4 linked regions of the Homo sapiens genome follow. The protein of the gene in region 1 purifies or fractionates together with the protein of each later gene. This does not show direct contact. Each region holds a gene or a part of one and is shown in the gene's direction. Other genes may lie near its edges.

What was found. The genes of interacting proteins can lie anywhere in the genome.
Region 2: the proteins of IFT43 (region 1) and MYO9B purify together in Homo sapiens (affinity purification with mass spectrometry; one large-scale study listed by BioGRID and IntAct). This does not show direct contact.
Region 3: the proteins of IFT43 (region 1) and RGS20 purify together in Homo sapiens (affinity purification with mass spectrometry; one large-scale study listed by BioGRID and IntAct). This does not show direct contact.
Region 4: the proteins of IFT43 (region 1) and SENP8 purify together in Homo sapiens (affinity purification with mass spectrometry; 2 studies listed by BioGRID and IntAct, with this or other methods). This does not show direct contact.

What each region holds. Positions count from the first base shown.
Region 1 is NC_000014.9:76,081,727-76,084,539, forward strand, and holds the end of IFT43 (intraflagellar transport protein 43 homolog), read left to right. Parts: intron 1-568; coding exon 569-641; intron 642-890; coding exon 891-966; intron 967-1,500; coding exon 1,501-1,563; intron 1,564-1,731; coding exon 1,732-1,851; 3' UTR 1,852-2,016; downstream 2,017-2,813. UniProt on the Homo sapiens protein: As a component of IFT complex A (IFT-A), a complex required for retrograde ciliary transport and entry into cilia of G protein-coupled receptors (GPCRs), it is involved in ciliogenesis.
Region 2 is NC_000019.10:17,078,491-17,082,276, forward strand, and holds part of MYO9B (unconventional myosin-IXb), read left to right. Parts: intron 1-3,786. UniProt on the Homo sapiens protein: Myosins are actin-based motor molecules with ATPase activity. Unconventional myosins serve in intracellular movements. Binds actin with high affinity both in the absence and presence of ATP and its mechanochemical activity is inhibited by calcium ions.
Region 3 is NC_000008.11:53,956,552-53,959,803, forward strand, and holds the end of RGS20 (regulator of G-protein signaling 20), read left to right. Parts: intron 1-1,718; coding exon 1,719-1,907; 3' UTR 1,908-2,752; downstream 2,753-3,252. UniProt on the Homo sapiens protein: Inhibits signal transduction by increasing the GTPase activity of G protein alpha subunits thereby driving them into their inactive GDP-bound form.
Region 4 is NC_000015.10:72,121,117-72,124,902, forward strand, and holds part of SENP8 (sentrin-specific protease 8), read left to right. Parts: intron 1-3,786. UniProt on the Homo sapiens protein: Protease that catalyzes two essential functions in the NEDD8 pathway: processing of full-length NEDD8 to its mature form and deconjugation of NEDD8 from targeted proteins such as cullins or p53.

The sequences.
Region 1 (2,813 bases):
TGGATCCCAGGGAGTCAGGCTATGTCATTAGATGGAAGATGCCCTTGAGATGCAGGCTGAGGGCCCTGATGATTGCACTGCGGGGCTAATGCACATAGAGATCTGGGTCATGAGGAGTGGCACTCACTGCGGCATCCGCTTTGTGACACTACATGTTCTCAGTTCCTCTGTCTCTGACCATGCCAGGCTCACTTGTCAGTTCCTCTTCTTTCCTCTAATAAGCCCTTTGTTACATTTATTTCTTTACATTTCTCCTTGGAGATCCACTGCAGTGGCTTCTAACCTGTTGCACGCGTCAGAATCACCAAGGAACGCCTGGGAAAAAAATCTGGATGCTTGAGCGTGACCCAGGAGGTTCTATCTCAGCAGGTTCTGGAATGAGGCCTGGGATTCAGACATCGTTGAAACTCCACCTTTGATCCTACCCCTAGTTTGTATCTGAGTGTCCTTCCTGCCCCAGCCCACAGCCCCATGGCTGGTGTGTTGAAGGGGAATGAGTAAGAAGTGGAGAAGCAGGCACAATCCCTATGAGTTCTGCAGACAGTGTTGCCTCTGCCTCTCCTTGCAGATATTCCTATCATTCCGGATCTGGAGGAAGTACAGGAAGAAGACTTTGTTTTGCAGGTGGCAGCCCCTCCCAGGTAGGTTAAATCAGATATGATTGGGGAGGCAAAGAACACGTGAATTAATACACTCCAGATATCATCTATAGTGGACCTTGATGTCAATCTGGATCTTTCTGGTGTTGGGCTCCATCCAGGGTTCCCATTTTGTTATTCCCATTCTGGTCATCCCCTGCTGTATACAAGGTTCTGGGGACGGTGGCCCGGCAGCACTCCTGGAACAGGTCCTGCCTGGGGTTCCCGCCTCTCGCTCTCTCTTTCCTTCAGCATCCAGATAAAGCGGGTGATGACCTACCGTGACCTGGACAATGACCTCATGAAGTACTCAGCCATTCAGACACTGGTGAGTGGAACAGCTTCTGCATAGAGAGGCGGGCTCCAAGCAATGGGCTTCAATCCGTAGAGATTTCTCAGTTCCTCCCAAGCTATACAGCGCCTCCACCAGTCCCCTGAGGCTGCCTGCCTGGCACCCATACCTCTGCTGCAGGTTTTATCATCATTCATCTCACAGCAACCCTGGACCCAACATAGTACAGTGTTTCTCAGTGCCAGGCTCCCACCTGCCTCCATGGCTGCCCACTTGGCACCTGATGGCACCCCACTCCCCTCTGTCCCTGTGGCTGTACTGCTGTCACACTCGGTCCTCCTGGTATGGTCCTTTGCCCCAAAGCACGCCCAGCATGTGGGAAGCATAGCCTTCCCTCATTTCTCAGTGGGCATGTGGTTCATTCATGATTTTACTCTCTTGTGAAGGCATTCCTGCAGGTCTCAGTTTGGGAAGTTCTGACACACAAAAACTGATCCCGGTTTTGTGAGAAAGAGTTGCCTGAAAGCCCTCAAGGTGCTCAGCCTGACCTTTTTTTGTTTGCATTCACAGGATGGGGAGATCGACCTGAAACTCCTCACCAAAGTGCTCGCGCCGGAGCACGAAGTCCGGGAGGTACAGTGGTGGCAGCAATTCCCCGGTCTCTCAGCTCTGGCATTCCCATAACCAGCCGACTCCCGGGCTGGCCTGTGCCTCCCTGAGGCCTGGATGGGAGGGAGAAGTCAGCTACAGTTGAGGGAAAAGGCCTTTCTTTGTCTTACCCAGCGAAACCCTTCTTGGCAGGATGATGTCGGCTGGGACTGGGACCATCTGTTCACTGAGGTGTCCTCAGAGGTCCTCACTGAGTGGGACCCACTGCAGACGGAGAAGGAGGACCCTGCGGGGCAGGCCAGGCACACCTGAGCCCGTCACCCATGCTCTAGACATGAAGAAATGCAATGAGCTTAAAGCTAAAGAAGCTTGTAAGCAGCTCCGAATTTTTACCTGGAATATTTTGTAATAAAAATATTTATATTCAGTCAACCACATTGGATAATTCAATTGCAATAAATTGCTTATTCTGTGCCATCTCCTCCATTTCTTTCCAGTCTCTTCTTGGAAAATGTATCACAAGTGAAGGAGAACAGCTTTTAAACCAGCTGATAGGAACTCAGAACTCGCGGCCTTGTTGCGGAGCATGTGGGAGAGTTCGATTCAGGCGGAGAAGGAGTGGGCACTCCTACTGAAAGCTGTTCACTTCTCGGGAGGTTTCAAACAGTTGCCTGCTGGGGTTCTGGGGCGGGGCCTCCCTTCCCGTGGGTGCTCTGGGCCCTTTGTGACCTTAGTGACGCAGCACTGCCACCTGCATCATAGGCTTCCAGGCAGCTGCAGCGGAGGGAGGAGGCGGCGGGAGGGATAAGGAGACTCATTCTTCACTCGCATCAGGGTTTGGTGGCTGTTGTGACAATATTCTCCTTTCTCCCCTCTTCCTGCAGTCCATGCCTTGAGCTCCAAAAGCTTCTACAGGTTCCCAGAGCCTCATTTCTGATTCTCATGGGAAGGGGCCAGCCAGCAGCCCTGAGAATTCCATGGAAGCCCTCTCTTACAGAGCCTGGGCCTCCCTTCTCCTTATCCTTTTAGATACGTTGCAGCCATCTCCACCGCTGCAAGTATTATAACCGCCTGGTTCCAAGATGTGCTGAGATCAGGAGCAGAGTCCCACCCTTCTCCTAAACAGAGCTGTCTTTTGTTTTTGTTTTTCTCTTTTCCTCCCTGAGACTTCTTATCTGAGGACAGAGCCCCTTCGCTGCCTGCTTCTCTTGGATGCGGCTTTGGGTTAGGCTGGCAGCAGCTAACTAAGGCCCACTCCCCGGCCATAGGGAGCG
Region 2 (3,786 bases), on another chromosome or scaffold:
GATTGCGCCATTGCACTCCAGTCTGGGTGACAGAGCAAGATGCCCTCAAAAATAATAATAATTAAAAAAAAGAATGGAATTCAGATCAGGTCATCAGTACGGTGACAGAGGGGCCACAAGATATTATGGGGGGAGAATTAGGGACAACCAATGCAAGCTTTAGGACAAGGGGGATTCCAGCAAGTTTCCTCGGAAGTAGTGGCTGGCCCCAGGTCAAACCTGGAAAGATACCACGTGTTAAACCACTCCGGGTGGAAGGGATTGCACAAGCAGATACCTTTGAAGCCCGGCCTGTACAGGGCATCCCAGCTCTCTCATTCTGCCAACCGGCAGTGCGAGGGTCCTTGTTCTTATCTTCCTGATACAGAAACAGGCCCAGGCAGGTGATGACTTCAGAGATGGTTCCTTGAGCTTTCTAGAAACATGCAGGATCCTTAGTAACCTTTAACTGGGGAAACCCAAATCTCCAGGGCCGTTTCTCACCCGCATCACCATTGACAGTTGGGGCTGTGCACTGTAGAATGTGGAATAGTGTCCCTGGCTGTCACCCATGAGATGCCAGTAGTATTCCATCCCCTCCAAGGGGTAACAACTGAAAATGACTCCAGCCATGGCCACGTGTCCCCTGGGGGCAGAATCACCTCCCCCGCCAGGTGAAATGTGATGCTCATTAGTAAAACCTGGTTCCCCTCTAGGGCCCATCATTGCCTTGGTGGGTCCTTGGTGTTTGTGGAGCCCCTGAGGAACTGCCACTAAGAGTGGGAACAGGGGCAGAGACCAGGAACTGAATCCTGCCATCCAGTCAGTTCTTAATCAGGAGGGAGCGGGTCTTGATAAAAAGGAGGAACCGTTAGGAACGGACTGTGGGAGGGTAGGCAACGTGCCCGAGGGTGGACAGCGGGTGCCCTTGTCTTTTCTTTGTCTTGTGACTGACCTGGATTTCTGGAGGAACTGTCCTCGTCTTAGAATGATCTGTTGCTTTTCTTCTGAGATTAGAGGTATTAGATTCTCTCCCAAGAGCTACTTTGGAGGTTGCCCCGGATAAACGTCGCTTTTGTAAGCTGCATTATCTCTTCCATGGGCCCTTTCGCCCGCCCGTTCCCAAGCACATACTGCTGAATTTTTGTTCTTGGTCCATCTTGCTGTCCCCTTCCCTGCTTGGCCCCCTCCTTGACCGTGACTTTGCTGCTTTACCTTGATTGGAGGAGACGCTCTGGGGCCACGGGACTGACGGTCCCTTCTGGGTGCTGCCCCCACACCCCACCCACCAGCCCTTTGTGTGCCCGGCATCCCCAGCCCAGCTGTGCCAGGCTGCCCCTGCTCGGCCGGCCATTCAGACGGCCCCAGGCGGCCTCTCGGCAAAGCAAGACAAGCCCTTCTCTTCTGCCCTCGTGGTCCCTGGAGTGGCAGAACAAAGGGCTCTGTCTCCACACCAGCCCACCGCCGCAGCCCAGAGCCCCGTTCCCTTTCAATTTCTATCGTGGCTGGGAAAGAGCCTCAGAGATTAGGCATGTTTCAGAAATGCAGCTGACGAGTTTGGGTTCTACTCATTTCCTCAGCGAGACTTTCTGAGCCCGAGCCCGATGATAAATAAAGTAGTGATTCAAGGGTTCAGCCCATGGGTTCGTCGGAGTGATGAATAAGATATCCTTGTCTGACTCACTTGTTTAAAACCCATCTCTGCCCTGCTGCACAGGGCTGTATGTGCAAGAGAAGGAGCCCCGCTAGGGGTGTTTCATGACTGTTGTTGCTGGGTGCCTGAGTTTGCTAGGGCTGCTGTAACAGAACCGCACGCTGGGTGGCCAGAACGACAGAAGTATATTGGCTTGCAGTTCTAGAGGCCAGACGTTTAAGATCACATTCAAGATCAAGGTGTTGGCAGGGTTCGTGCCTTCGGAGGGCTGTGAGAATCTGTTCCACGCCTCTCTCTGTTGGCTCATACATAGCCGTCTTCCCCTGGGTCTTCACATCGTCCTCCCTCTGTGCCTGTCTCTGTGTCCAAATTTCCTCTTATGAGGACAGCAGTCATATGGAAGGGGGCCCACCCTAATGACATCATTTTAACTGAATCATCCCCATAAAGACCCTGTCTCTAGGCGAGGCTTGGTGGCACACGCCTGTAATCTCAGCCCTTTGGGAGGCTGAGGCAGGAGGATCACTTGAGGCCAGGAGTTTAAGACCAGCCTGGACAACATAGCAAGATCCCATCTCTACAAAAAAATACTAAAATTAGCTAGACATGATGGTGAATGCCTGTGGTCCCAGCACTTTAAGAAGCTGAGACAGACAGATCGCTTGAGCCTGGGAGTTTGAGGCTACAGTGAGCTATGATCATGGCACTGCATTCCAGCCTGGGTGACAGAACGACACCCCCATCTCTTAAAAAAAAAAAAAATCCCAAATATACTCATACTCTGAAGTTCTGAGGTTTAGGATTTCAATATGTGAATATTTCTTTGTGGAGGGGAGTGGTGGACACAGCTCAGCCCATAATACTGAGAAAAGGACAAATTCAAATTACATTTTTATTTATTTGTTTATTTATTTTGGGGGCGGGGGCAGAGTCTCACTCTGTCACCCAGGCTGGGGTGCAGTGACGCGATCTCAGCTCACTGCAACCTCTGTCTCCCAGGTTCAAGTGATTCTCCTGCCTCAGCCTCCCGAGTAGCTGGGACTACAGGCGTGCGCCACCACGCCCAGCTACTTTTTGTATTTTTAGTAGAGATGGGCTTTCATTGTGTTGACCAGGCTGGTCTTAAACTCCTGACATCAGGTGATCAGCCCGCTCGGACTCCCAAAGTGCTGGGATAACAGATGTGAGCCACCGTGCCCGGCCTCAACTTACATTTTTAGATAATATAGGAACCTGGAGGGAAATGATCGTGTCAATAGAGAATAGGTCCATTTTGTCTCTTCTCACTCCTTTAAATAAACACTTTAAGGGTGAGCAGGTTGGTTGGCCACATCAATTTTGGACGCTCCCTGTTTTCCAGATCTCACACTCATACATTCAGGGGTGACTAAAGAGAGGTGAGAGGCCTGGTGCAGTGGCTTACGCCTGTAATCCCAGCACTTTGGGAGGCCGAGGTGGGAGGATCACCTAAGGTCAGGAGTTTGAGACCAGCCTGGCCAACATGATGAAACCCAGTCTCTACTAAAAATACAAAAATTAGCTGGGTGTAGTGGCACACACCTGTAATCCCAGCTGCTTGGGTGGCTGAGGCAGAAGAATTGCTTGAACCCAGGAGGCAGAGGTTGCAGTGAGCCGTGATCTTGTGCCACTGCACTCCAGCCTGGGCAAGAGAGTAAGATCCCATCTCAAAAAAAAAAAAAAAAAAAAGAGGCGAGGACCCAGCCCAGGGCGGAGTGGGTCCCATGGGATTTTACAGGGGATGTGTTGAGGGCCAGGTCCACAAGGCTGCGTGTGCCTGGTGGGGAAGCAGGATGAAGTTTACAAACAGGGCATGGGGCGGGGGTATATCTCTGTTCTCAGTATTGCCAGGGTCAGGGGCAAGGAATATCCAAAAGTAACTACACTCTTGGACCCAAGTGACCTTAGGACCAACTGCTGTCACAAGTGATTGAACAAAAGAAGTTTCTGGAAGGTCTTAAAATCCTTCAGCAAAAAGGAAGTATTGGCTGGGAGCCAGGCTCAGAGCTGGCCCTTGGGGAGACTGAGGAGAACAGAAATAGCCCTCGCCTCTGTTCAGATGTTCAGCCAGGAGTCACGAGCATGGAAGTCAAATTAACAGCCCAGTGGGGTCTGTGAAGGTGCCGGCAGCAGGC
Region 3 (3,252 bases), on another chromosome or scaffold:
GGATTTGAGGCAAACCCCACCGTCTCAAATGACTCCCATATGTCTGGTGTAGGCAGACCAGGTGGTGGGGTCGTTGGCTTACTTAATTTTGCGTCGTTACGTTTTGCTTTCTTAAGTTTGCGTTGTTAAATTGGTAATATTCAGTTGACATGTTTGAATACTGAGTCCAAAAAGTTATTTTCATTTTGAATTAATAAGGAGCAAGATAATTTTTGTCCTTTAATTTATGGCTTCCACATATTTTTATTTTGTCATGATTTTTTTTAAGGCAAGGTTTTTCATCAATCTTTTAAAGTATTATACAACCAAAAACAGGCCGGGCACAGTGGCTCACGCCTGTAATCCCAGCACTATGGGAGGCCGAAGCAGGCAGATCACCTTGTCTAGGAAGAGCCAAACATCAGAGCAATCAACATCTCCTATGGGCTTAGTGAAATCCAAGCACTTTGTCATTAAATCACAAAAAACCTAAGACATTACCATCATCATCATCCCCACTTCAGGGGAAGAGCTCACTAGGACACAGAGTTTACCTTGCCTGAGGCCCCACAGCTATACAGTGACAGGGATGGATTTTGTTTTGTTTTGTTTTTGAGATGGAGTCTCGCTCTGTTGCCCAGGCTGGAGTGCAGTGGCATGGTCTCGGCTCACTGCAACCTCTGCTTCCCAGGTTCAAGCGATTCTCCTGCCTCGGCCTCCCGAGTAGCTGGGATTACAGGCACCTGCCACCATGCCCAGCTAGTATTTTTTATTTTTAGTAGAGATGGGGTTTTGCCATGTTGGCCAGGCTGGTTTCGAACTCCACAGCGCTGGGATTACAGGCGTGAGCCACCATACCCAGGCAGGGCTGGAATTTAAACACAGGCATTGTCTGCCCTCAGGCCCTGTGATTGGAACCTTCCAGGGTTTTGAGTCAACTTCCACTTCACCCCTGTGCCCAACCCTCCGGGCAGGCCAGCACTCATCCCCAGAGCCCTGCCACTGTGGGCCAGCAGGGGAAGCCTGGGCCTCCAGGTGTCAGCCCCCACGTTACAAGGAAATGAGCAAGGGGCAGTCTGTGCTGCCTGTTTTCTTCAAAGCAGCAGTGTGAGCCCTGCCAGCATCACTTAGAACTTGTGGGAAATAACAAGCATCAGGGGCCCCTACACCTACTGAGTCTGGGGTGGGGCCCAGGAACCGCTCTCACAAGCCCTCTGGAGCCTGCTGATGCCACTGACATTTGAGAACTGCGTTGATTATGCTTTTGGTTTCTCTTTGGCAGTTTGGATTTTTTGGATGATCTTGTTTGGTTTGGGATATTTAAAAAACAACAAGGCCGGGCACAGTGGCTCATGCCTGTAATCCCAGCAGCTAGAGAGGCCGAGGCGGGCGGATAACCTGAGGTCAGGAGTTCGAAACCAACCAACACGGAGAAACCCCGTCTCTACTAAAAAAGTTAGCCGGGTGTGGTGGTGGGTGCCTGTAATCCCAGCTACTCGGGAGGCTGAGGTAGGAGAATTGCTTGAACCCAGGAGGCGGAGGTTGCACTGAGCTGAGATCGCGCCACTGCACTCCAGCCTGGGTGACAGAGTAAGACTCTGTCTCAAAACAAAACAAACAACAAAAAAACCAAAAACAAAAAACAAAAACAACAACAAAAATCCCCACAAGCTCTAGGAGTTTGGGATAGAGATACAACTGAAGTCTCTAATACAGCTCCTACTCGTTTCTGTCGACAGGTGAGCTTAGACTCCCGGGTGAGAGAAGTGATCAACAGAAACATGGTGGAGCCATCCCAACACATATTCGATGATGCTCAACTTCAGATTTACACCCTGATGCACAGAGACTCATATCCTCGATTCATGAACTCTGCTGTCTATAAGGACTTGCTTCAGTCCTTATCGGAGAAATCTATTGAAGCATAGGATTTTTCAAATATATTTATTATTAATAAAATAATAAAAGAATTCATGGGCTACAACTAGCACAGGGAATTTAGAGGTTGTAGCATCTTCTGCTGGAGTAATACTCAGGCTATTCTAATAACAGATGATTCCTTCAACAGACTGCTATATATTCACCATGTAAACTGCAGCCACCTTTAGTGATACTTTTGAAAAAAAAAAATAAAGGGATATGGCTGTTGTAGAAAGATAGCGTATTTGCATTTACAATAACAGTAGCATGTTGTCAGTGGCCAAGGCTACACAGAAGGCTCCCTGCTGCCCGGAGCAGGTACATCCACCAGAGCAAAGGGAACCACTTTTATTTTGCATGAGTTTGGTAACTGATTACTCTCCCCTCAAAGAAAAGACATTCAGGTGTTTCTCAACGACATCTTCTGTCCAGCAAGCTCGGTTTGAATACGTCACTTACCAGTGCCATTGCAGGACCCAAATTCACAGTTCATAAAAGATGTGACCACTACATGTAAAAATAGCATTCTACTTGATCTTACAGTATGTATGTATGTATGTATGGAGACATATGTGTGCGTGTGGATGTCTACATGGTTAATGGAAAGCACTGTGCTCTGAAGTGGATCAGTCTCAAGTGTCTGGTAACAGCAGCAGTGCTTAGAAAATTCTTTTGTTGAAAAGAGTTACTGTTATTATCAGAATTTGCCAACCTAAAGAATGAATTTTTAAATTCATAACTTGGTCATGTTCACAACAAAACTGTCAAATAAGCATATTTCCATTTTTATTACTGAAAGAAATATGGGCATTTTCATTCTTTAAAGAAATAAAGCACAAGAATTTTATCTCAATCTTTATTTTTCCATATGTACGTATTTGGGAAATAGAAGATTAAGAAAGTAGGGATACGTGCAGCCTATCTTTTAGCTCCCAGACTAGGATTCTGTCCTTAGATCCCACTATTTTTATCATAGATAAAAAGAATAACTTCTCACAGGTAAAACTACCAGTTGGTAGACCTAGACCATCCTGAAGAAATCCATCTCTACATAGAATAGGAAACACACTCAAAATCTGGGACGCTCTGAGTAGTGGGAAAGACGCTACTTTGCAGGAGGCGGCACCGTGCTCCTGCCCTCGAGGGGAATGGTTCTCCTCTGGGTCCTTCTCCCTCCCTGGCCCCTCCATAGCCTGCCTGTATCTTCATGACTCAACTCAAGCCCCAAACCCAAGCCCCTCTCCTTCATTCTCAGGAAACCATTTTACCTCCTACTCTACTATGCAAATTGTGTCCGTAAGTCCCCTCAACTTCCCGTGCAACCTATAAATATATATAGATCAGCGTCTATTC
Region 4 (3,786 bases), on another chromosome or scaffold:
GCAACCAGTACTATCCCACTGTTTCCTAATAACCAGGGCCTGCAGAGGGACTGAGCTTGTGGGTGTATATGTCTGTGAGAGTAATACCAGAAAATAAATCAGGAAAGGTAGATTGGGGCTATTTTTGTGGAAATCATTGAATGCCAGGCTGTAATTTGTAGTTACTTTGGTAGACAATGGAGGGTTGTTAAAATTTTTTGGAGTAGAATAATGTGATTAGAGTTCTGTTTGAAAATCTAGAATAATGTGCAGGTTAGATTATCAAAAGAGAAGATAGGAATGAAGAGACTAGAACAATAAGTTAATTAATTTTTGAAAAATGGAATCTTGGGCCAGGTGCAGTGGCTCAGGCCTGTAATCCCAGCACTTGGGGAGGCTGAGGCAGGAGGATCACTTGAGCCCAGGAGTTCAAGACCAGCCTGGGCAACAAAGTGAGACCGTGTCTCTCCAAAAAAAAAAAAAGAAAATTAGCCAGACATAGTGGTGCCTGCCTGTGGTCCCATCTACACGGGAGACTGAAGCAGGAGGATTACATGAGCCCAGGAGGTCGAGGCTGCAGTGTTCATGCCACTGCACTCCAGCCTGAGTGACAGAGAGCCTGTCTCCAAAAAAAATCTTGAGGTGATCTCTAGAGTCTGCTAAATTCCTTTATTTCCACAATGTGCTGACCAGTCTAGAGTAACATACATTGGAATAAATGGCATACCTGTCAACAGGAATATATACCCCAGTGTGGGAGTCAGTTAACTTTATGTGGTCAAGAGGCTAGCCCAGTCTTTTGTATTATAAATGATATTGTTAGTACTTCTAATAAAGCAATGGCCTTACCATAAGTTCACAGATCTTGCCAAGGCCTTCCTCAGTCAAACTCCATCTATACCTGTGAGTCCTACATTTCTGACTTTTAAAAGTCAGAACCTGTCTATACCTGTGAGTCCTACATTTCTGTCTTTTAAAAGTCAGAACTCCTCTCTTTTTGCCAATTCCTTAAACTTCTTGGATGGGAAAGAAGTTTAGTTTAAACACATTAGCAAAAGAATGGGAGGTCCTCAAGGCCCAGGCAACCCATCTCCTTTGAAACTGATCAATACCGGACTATAAAAACTTACTGCTCAAATCCAGCTAGTACCCAAAGTATGTACTGTCTATATACCTGTCTATACCTGTGAGTCCTACATTTCTGACTTTTAAAAGTCAGAACTCCTCTCTTTTTGCCAATTCCTTAAACTTCTTGGATGGGAAAGAAGTTTAGTTTAAACACATTAGCAAAAGAATGTGAAGTCCTCAAGGCCCAGGCAACCCATCTCCTTTGAAACTGATCAATACCGGACTATAGAAACTTACTGCTCAAATCCAGCTAGTACCCAAAGTATGTACTTTTTAAATGTATTCTAAAAAATTGAATTTGGGGTTTAGGTATTACTGATCCAAATGAGTCCTATAAAATTAACTTCCAGAACTAGGTTCTCAGAGAGGCCACCATTACCACCTTCTTCAACATAACTAGCCTATATTGACTTTCTGTCCATCAAATAATTGGAGGCCATTTGGGTGGTGATAGGAAGAATTAAGTTTATGCAGAACTTGAGGTTCAGCTATCTGACACCTTTTGCGGGAGGAGGAGGAGTGGGTCTATCTGAAATCAGAAATAATACTTTTATGAGGCTTTTTAATAATTTTTATTACTTACAGAAAATTTCTGAAAGTTCCTTTCTCTGGCTCCCAATTAAATGGCTTACTCCACAATCAACTTATAAAAGCACTGGATCATTGTCTTGATCCCAAAAAATTTGTCCCAACTATAGTTACTATTTTGAGCATCTGTATTATTGTTTGAAAACCTTAGGCTTGCTTTCCCTGATGGCCAATGAATAAAACTCTCAAAGTCGTGTGATTCATTACTCATTAATTCATTAGATATTTATTGAACCTCTACTATGTGCCAGGCACATTTTTGAAACCCACTAATGAGCAATTTGTAATGACAATTTACCTCTTAACTATCTATGAAAAAAATAACTTGCCAGGATTTGAAATCCTTAGAACAAATGAGATTAAAAGATCATAGCTTTTTTGTGTTCTTTCAAATAGTGTGTTTGCATAGAGCTGCCATGTGCTGACCACAGTGATTATCTGTGAAATGAGGTAAATCATGGCTTTAACCACTCCTTATCAGACTTTGTTACCACATGTACTAAAATAAAGTTCTGTCTACACCTTTATAAAATATTATCTTACACAGACGTCTTATTAATTCTAATGGCCTCTCCACACCTGACCCTCACTCCTAGTCATTTCAAAGTTTGCAATTGTGTAAAGTCATTTCTCAGAAAATTTGAAGCAAAACAAAGTCACCACAAGAAAAACTTGGTATACACCAGGTTTATATTGAGGACAAAAACTGTGACACAATTACAAATGGAACTTTTTTTTTTTTTTTTGTGATGGAGTTTTGCTCTTGTTCCCCAGGCTGGAGTGCAGTGGCGTGCTCTTGGCTCACCACAACCGCCACCTCCTGGGTTCAAGCAATTCTCCTGCCTCAGCCTCCCGAGTAGCTAGGATTACAGTTGTACACTACCACGCCTGGCTAATTTTGTATTTTTAGTAGAGACAGGGTTTCTCCATGTTGGTCAGGCTGATCTAGAACGCCCGACCTCAGGTGATCCACCCGCCTTGGCCTCCCAAAGTGCTGGGATTACAGGCATGAGCCACCGCACCCAGCCTACAAATGGAACTCTTGAGGTAGAAATGGTAGACCAGGAATAAAATTATTTTCATGGTCAATGACACCTTAGCCATTGATAGCTGTGCCTAGTTACAGAGCAATAAATGGAGAGCCTTGGTGTTAGATGAAATCCTAAAAAGTCACCTGTTTTATCTCCTTGGCCCCAGACAGAATAAAGTGGAATTTATAGCAGTAGAGTTACCAAGCATCATCATCACACCAAGTAGGTTTTGTACTTTGAGAGCTGAATTCCTCTCTGAAATATTGATGTTACAGGAATGTTGTTTAAATTCATAGCTCATTTATAAAATTGAGAATATTTCTTACATTTATAACTGTGTTGTGTTTTCCTGAGTTTTTCAAGATATGTTTCACTTCTGTACTTTGCTCACTCAGGAAAAATATTTATTTATTAAAACTCTAGCTTGTCAGGCACTGAAGTTAGAAGGATGAGTAAAATCTAATCTGTGTACTCAAGAGGGTTATATAATAAATCTTGATGGTCATTCTTACATGCCACATTATACAGATCTCCAGATGGCTTAGGCTTAGTTTTAAAAGGAAACGTTTTAATTGGGGGGAAATTGAAACCCCAAAAAAAAGCCATGAACTTCCTTCCTGGAAATATTTTTGCCATAAAAAGCATATTTGGTCTTGGATGTGATTCTTTTTGTGAAAGTGCAAGTTGAATCAGACATTAGAAGTTGGACATAATCTTCTAATTTTAGTAAACATCAAATTATTTTTAAATATTTGTGTTTGAACATTTATGGAAAAGAGATTAGATTTACCTGTTTTATCCAGAGGACAGAAGTAAGACTCAGAAGTTGAAAAAATGGAAATATTTTATGTCATTATAAGAGTGGGAACTGGTACATCTTTTATTCCTCTTCAATATGGAAATCACTGTATTTACTAATTATGTGTTCATTATTAAAAAAGGGGGAAAAATTAAAGCACAATATCAAAAGGTAGAAGGAAAAAGGCAAAAAAGTATTAATCCTATTTCTTAAAATGATATTTACACTTGATGGATATCGTTCTTGATTATTTTTCTGTAT